Linked DNA regions of Homo sapiens. The protein of the gene in region 2 purifies or fractionates together with the protein of the main gene of each other region. This does not show direct contact. Each region holds a gene or a part of one and is shown on either strand. Other genes may lie near its edges.

Region 1 (3,500 bases), on a different chromosome or scaffold from region 2:
AATGAAGCATGTATTCTTATATTATCAGGAGATTATAAATAGCCATTGTTTTGATTGATTTTGAGGCAGGGTCTCACTCTGTTGCCCAGGGTGTAGCAATCATGGTTCACTGCAGCCTCATACGCTTGGGCTCTAGTGATCCTCCTGCTTTAGCCTTCCCAGTAGTGGGGACTACAGGTAGGTGCCACCAGGCCTGGCTAATTTTTTTTTTTTTTTTTTTGGTTAGAGACGGGTCTTTGTTGTCCAGGCCTTTTATTTTTAAATTAAATTCTCCAGAGTTTACAAACCAATGAAATGATAATCTTCATTTTATCAGCCACATCCTGTTGTTCATCAAACCTTTTAGAACTTCTGTCAATTCGGAATTTTTTTTCTACTTCCCACTTTCATTGTATTCCTACTTGTTACTGTTTAGTTTGGGCCTTCATCAGTTCAAATCAATTATTTGCAACAGTTTTCCTTCTTTCTTGGCTGCTTTTAATTAGATCTTCCTTGTTCCAGTCTACACTACCACCAGAGCATAGCTTCTTAATCTTTTTAGGGCAGTAGTCCAGAATCCCTCTTTTGTTTATTGCCTTAAGTCTGAACCCATTGATCTTTCTGTGTCTTCCATTAGTTGGTTTAATTTTGTTTACTTGGTTTTCTTTTTTGAACTCCTTTTCTATCAGCCCGTACCACCTTTCGTTGTCTTCTGTAGCTTCCACTGGCACTAGGGTCTCACTGAGATCTTACCCCTGTTACTCTAACACAGAAAGACTTGGCAATGTTTGGAGATGTTTTTGATTGTCACACCCCAAGCTGGGAAGTATAGAGAGATGCCACTGGTATCTAATAATTGGTGGAGGCCAGGGATGTTGCTAAACATCCTGAAATGCAGAGACATTCCTCCACAACAAGGAATTATCTGGCCCAAAAGTCAATAGTGCAGAGGCTGAAAAACCCTGCCGGTGTAACAGGCTGTAACAGACTGCTGAAAATTCAGCAACTACTTACTGTTTCATAGAATTTCATCATGGTTCCCAGTTTCAATGTAGTGCTAAGTGAACACATTCAACAGGACTTCAATGCATAATTATTCATTCGTTTTATGAATGTATGGTTTCCCCCTCCTCAGGACCTGTTACTATGACTAGTGTACACCCCCCAATACGTTCACCTAGTGCCTCCAGCGTTGGAAGCCGAGGAAGGTAAACTGACTAAACCATATTTTCTAGTATATAAAAATCTCTAATTAGATTTCTTTTGCCAGTGTTCAACATGTTTTGATACTCAATATATTTTGAACAATTTCCTTTATTTTTAATTAAAATTTTAATAACTACTATATATTTTAATGAATTAGTTAAGGGATTAACAAAAGTACAAATTTACCTTTGAAGATAGAAGAATATTTGTCAATATGTTGAAAATAAGAAATGTTGGATATTCATATAATAGCAAAGAAAACATAAAAATGAATAGGCATAACACAGTACACTATATAGAAACACAAATTTAGAGAAAAGATAAAATTTTATGCTAATTTGATCTCTAATGACTAAATGTTGATTCTACTTTAAAATAAATATACAGTTATTGAAATTCTATATTTTAAGCAACTGCTCTCCTCTTCCCTGCATTATGCCTGAAAATTCCTCCTAGCTAGTGAACCCAGTTCTTACTTTATCATATGGAAGAATTGTCTGAGGGAGAAAAGTTTGCCTTTAATCCCATGAGAACATAGTGAATCTCTGTAAAAGCTTTTTGACCCACTACCTTCTTTAAATAGTATTGTGTAAATACATGATTATTTCATTGTCTTCACCAAAGTATTCACTTTGCTACTGACTAGAGAAGGAAATGAGAAAGCCTAAAATCAGATGCCAGTTCTAAGATACTAAATCTGGTTGCCTAATTGTAAAGCCTCAGGTTTTTAAAAGTTTAGGTTTATTGAAACATCTTTCTAGATATATAACTATTTAGATAGGTTAATATGTAAAACATTTTTATCATAAATGAAACTTGCATACACCAGTTTCATTTGTTATGCATCATTAATTGCTGATGTTAACATACTTATTGTTGTGAAGATACAGTATTTTAGAAAGTTGTTGTTATACTTTTTATGAGGTATTTAGCTTAACATTCTTAGATTGCTTTTTCTTCTCTCTCATACTTACAGCTCTGGCTCTTCCAGCAAACCAGCAGGAGCTGACTCTACACACAAAGTCCCAGTGGTCATGCTGGAGCCAATTCGAATAAAACAAGAAAACAGTGGACCACCGGAAAATTATGATTTCCCTGTTGTTATAGTGAAGCAAGAATCAGATGAAGAATCTAGGCCTCAAAATGTAATTATGAATGCTTGCAATGCTATTCCTATGCATGGTGGGTAGGGTGAGAGAATCTTTTAAATAGCTCTTAGGAGTTTTTTTTTAATGTTATATTTAAAAGGATTTAAAGACAATTTGAGGGAATCTCTCAGTAAATTAAACAAAAAGACAAAGATGGAAAAACAGGAAAGTTTTTAAAAATCAGAGGCTCAGATATGGAGGCTGGGCAGTTAAAAGGAGATATTCTTTCTTTAATCAGAGTTTTATACCCAGGCAAATTATCAATCAGATTGACTTGAAGATTAACTAAACATTTTCGTGCAAGTTCTCAAAATAATTCTTATGTACTCATTCTCAGGAAGATACTTGATAATATGAATCATCAAAAATATAGTAAAACAAGAAAGAAGACATAAGATTCCAAAAATGGAATCTGACACAGAAGAAAAAGGCAACCCCCAGTACAGCAGCAGCAGCAGCTTGTGCAGTAGTCTGTAGCAGGAAGACATAGGACTCCCAAGGGAGAAAAATGCTTCAACAGTATTGAGAATCTCCTGTTGGAGATTGTGAGAATAACATAGAAATAGGTACCTAGAAAGATAAGCAACTGAAAATATAAGGTAATTACAGAGTCTTAGTAAAAACAAAAAGTTGTACAAAAAATGTCTTAGTACATTTTGTGGGTCTGCAGTGAACAATATTTAAATAATAATAATAATGATGTAAACAAACACCTGAGTACGAATGTAACTAAAAACTGTGATGCAATCAGGATATAACCTGAATATGCACTTAACCAAAAATTGTGATTTTCAGAATACTTAACCAGTACAAGACAAATACTGATCAGTTAGAATAGATACTGGCAATAAACAGTTATACCAGTACCTACCAACTAAAACAATCAATGCTTAATCAAAACTAAGTTAAAGGGATGGGGTGAATGGTGGTGGTGGTGGTTTTGTGTGTGTGTGTGTGTGTGTGTGTGTGTGTGCGCGCACGCACGAATGGAAGCAGGACGGGGTTGGAGAATCAGAATGTAAAAACCTAATCTCCTGATCTTCACTAGTAAGGATTATAGATGTATTGCAATTTTTAACAATCATTTTATTTAGAAATATGGAGGTAAACAGCAGAAGAAAAAGCTAGGTTTGAAAATAGTTCTTCCAAGGAATAAGTGCTTTTAAC
Region 2 (3,885 bases):
TCTAGAGTGCTGTCCGATACTGGCATACACATTGTGTATTAGCAAGTGTGTACAAATTGTGTTTTGTTTTTGGTTTTTGTTTTTGTTTTTGAGATGGAGTCTCTCTTTGTCGCCCAGGCTGGAGTACAGTGGCGTGATCTCAGCTCACTGCAAGCTCCACCTCCTGGGTTCACGCCATTCTCCTGCCTCAGCCTCCCGAGTAGCTGAGACTACAGGCGCCCGCCACCACGCCCGGCTAATTTTTTTGTATTTTTAGTAGAGACGGGGTTTCACTGTGTTAGCCAGGATGGTCTCGATCTCCTGACCTCGTGATCCACCCACCTTGGCCTCCCAAAGTGCTGGGATTACAGGTGTGAGCCACCGCACCCGGCCAAGTGTGTGCAAATTGTTAAACTGTTCTGACCAAGAGCTGTTGTCTTGTAAATCATTTTCTTAGGCCTGGACATAGCCTTCTATATAGCATTAACATGTCATCAGATAATTTCCCGCAGACAAGTGGTTTGCAAAGGAAAGAGTTATACAGCAGGTGCATTGGCTTACACCTGTAATCCCAGCACTTTGGGAGGCCGATGTGGGTGGATTTCTTGAACCTGGGAGTTTGAGACCAGCCTGGGCAACAAGGCGAAACCCCACCTCTACAAAAAGTAGCTGGGCGTATTGGCCTGTGCCTGTGGTCCCAGCTACTGTGGAGGCTGAGGTGGGAGGATCACCTGAGCCCAGGAGACAGAGATTATGCCACTGCACTCTGTGCTGGATGACAGAGTGAGATCCTGTCTCTCAAGAAGAAAAAAAAAATTGTAGACCTTGGCTCAATTCTCTGTGTTGCATGTATGCTAATGCCCTTCATATCATGAGGCCGACATTCTGTGACCTTTATAGCCCAGTAATGATAGCCTCATCTTCCACGTGAAGCCAACTTTCTGTTCCTGCAAATATTTCCATGGAGTAATTCCTTGGTTTGTCAGACACGCTTGTGGGTGGGCTGTGCCTTCCCACCAGAGTTAACTTGAATTCATCAGCATTTTCTTGCTTTCAGGTTGTTGGTGTGGATCAGAAGATGAGGAGGCACCTTCTAAGAAGAGCATTTCTATACAAAGAGTGTCTCAGGTCAGCACTCCTGGGGCAGGTGTGTCTCCCAAGAAGGCCCACTCTTGTGAAATGTGTGGCGCGATCTTGGGAGACATTTTGCACTTGGCAGATCATCAGGGGACACATCACAAGCAGAAACTGCACAGGTGTGAGGCATGGGGGAATAAATTGTATGATAGTTCAAACCGTCCGCACCAGAATCAGTACCTTGGAGAGAAACCCTATAGAAGCAGTGTTGAGGAAGCATTGTTTGTGAAGAGGTGTAAGTTCCATGTGTCAGAGGAGTCATCTATCTTCATTCAGAGTGGAAAGGACTTTTTGCCCAGCTCAGGATTACTGCTGCAGGAGGCCACTCACACTGGGGAGAAGTCAAACAGCAAACCTGAGTGTGAGTCTCCCTTTCAGTGGGGAGATACTCATTACAGCTGTGGAGAATGCATGAAACATTCTAGCACCAAACACGTATTTGTTCAACAGCAGAGACTTCCCTCTAGAGAGGAATGTTATTGCTGGGAATGTGGGAAATCCTTTAGCAAATATGATAGCGTCAGTAATCATCAGAGAGTTCACACTGGGAAAAGACCTTATGAATGTGGAGAATGTGGGAAATCTTTTAGTCATAAGGGCAGCCTTGTTCAGCATCAGCGAGTTCACACTGGGAAAAGACCTTATGAATGTGGAGAATGTGGGAAATCTTTTAGTCATAAGGGCAGCCTTGTTCAGCATCAGCGAGTTCATACTGGAGAAAGACCTTATGAGTGTGGAGAATGTGGGAAATCTTTTAGTCAAAATGGTACTCTCATTAAACATCAACGAGTTCACACTGGAGAAAGACCTTATGAGTGTGAAGAATGTGGGAAATGTTTTACTCAGAAGGGCAATCTCATTCAACATCAACGAGGTCACACTAGTGAAAGACCTTATGAGTGTGAAGAATGTGGAAAATGTTTTAGTCAAAAGGGCACCCTAACTGAACATCATCGAGTTCACACTAGAGAACGACCTTATGAGTGTGGAGAATGTGGGAAATCTTTTAGTCGAAAGGGACACCTTAGGAACCATCAGCGAGGTCACACTGGAGAAAGACCTTACGAGTGTGGAGAATGTGGGAAATCTTTTAGTCGAAAGGGCAACCTCATTCAGCATCAGCGAAGCCACACTGGAGAAAGGCCTTATGAGTGTAGAGAGTGTAGGAAATTATTTAGGGGCAAGTCCCACCTCATTGAACACCAGAGAGTTCACACTGGAGAAAGGCCATATGAATGTAATGAATGTGGGAAATCATTTCAAGACAGCTCTGGGTTTCGTGTTCATCAGAGAGTTCACACTGGAGAAAAACCGTTTGAGTGTAGTGAATGTGGGAAGTCATTTCCTCAAAGCTGTTCCCTCCTTCGACATCGGAGAGTTCATACTGGAGAAAGGCCTTATGAATGTGGAGAATGTGGAAAGTCATTTCATCAGAGCTCTTCCCTCCTTCGACATCAGAAAACTCACACTGCAGAAAGACCTTATGAGTGCAGAGAATGTGGGAAATTCTTCTCCAGTCTCCTTGAACACAGGAGAGTTCACACTGGAGAAAGGCCTTATGAATGCAGGGAATGTGGAAAAACATTTACTCGAAGGTCTGCGCATTTTAAACATCAGAGACTTCATACTCGAGGAAAGCCTTACGAGTGCAGCGAATGTGGGAAATCCTTTGCTGAAACCTTCAGTCTTACTGAACACAGGAGAGTACACACTGGAGAAAGGCCTTATGAGTGCAGTGAATGTGGAAAATCATTTCATCGAAGCTCTTCTCTCCTTCGACATCAGAGAGTTCACACAGAAAGAAGTCCTTACAAGTGAAAAGAAATTTGGGAAATTCTTTAGCTAAACCTCTGTGCATCTTCTTGATCAGAGGGTTCTTACTGGATCAGGACCTTATGAGTGTGACAAACGTGGGATATTCTTTATGCAGAAGTCTTGTTTTATTACATACAGAAGAGCTCCCACTGCAGAAGGGCCTCTTGAGTGCGATGAATGTGAGAAAGCCTTCTGCCTTCTGTCATTGGATAACAGATTGTTCTCATAAGGAAAACACTGTACACGTACAGGAAATATTATTTCTTGTAAAACATAACACTGGAGGAGATGCCTTATGACGGAGCCATCTGCCTAAATTGACATACCTTCAGCATCTGCATAAACTCAATTATGTTGGAGCTGTGTGGCATTTTTCACCCTGCCGGGTTCCCTTGCCAGACATGATGTCGGTTATCTGGCAAAAGCCATTTTATGTCGGCCACGAGGCAGGTGTTCACTGTGCATCATTCATTCACCCCATGATGTTCTGGAAGTAAACCTTGGTTGTCTTTCGTTGGCCAGAGGAATTGGTGAGTAGTCTCAGCTGTCATTCCTTTCTCATTTCTTTCGGATGAGCGAGACCATGGATCTGTCTCAGTACTGGTCCAGAGGGGTCTTCTGTCAGCTTGAAAAGATGGACTACCTTTTTCAGGGACCTTATGGGTCTCATGTGATATTTTTTTTTTTTTTTTGAGACAGAGTCTCGCTCTGTCGCCCAGGCTGGAGTACAGTGGCGTGATCTCAGCTCACTGCAAGCTCCGCCTCCCGGGTTCACGCCATTCTCCTGCCTCAGCCTCCCGAGTAGCTGGGACTACAGGTGCCCACCACCATGCCCAGCTAATTTTTTTGTATTTTTAGTAGAAATGGGGTTTCTCCGTGTTAGCCAGGATGGTCTCGATCTCCTGACCTCATGATCTGCCCTCCTTGGCCTCCCAAAATGCTGGGATTACAGGC

The links.
Region 1: the proteins of ZNF418 (region 2) and TRIM24 purify together in Homo sapiens (affinity purification with mass spectrometry; one large-scale study listed by BioGRID and IntAct). This does not show direct contact.

Annotation. Positions count from the first base shown.
Region 1 is NC_000007.14:138,575,259-138,578,758, forward strand, and holds part of TRIM24 (transcription intermediary factor 1-alpha), read left to right. Parts: intron 1-1,114; coding exon 1,115-1,187; intron 1,188-2,161; coding exon 2,162-2,330; intron 2,331-3,500. UniProt on the Homo sapiens protein: Transcriptional coactivator that interacts with numerous nuclear receptors and coactivators and modulates the transcription of target genes.
Region 2 is NC_000019.10:57,925,199-57,929,083, reverse strand, and holds part of ZNF418 (zinc finger protein 418), read left to right. Parts: intron 1-1,036; coding exon 1,037-2,934; 3' UTR 2,935-3,461; intron 3,462-3,885. UniProt on the Homo sapiens protein: Transcriptional repressor. May play a role as regulator of the ubiquitin-proteasome system and autophagy-lysosomal pathway.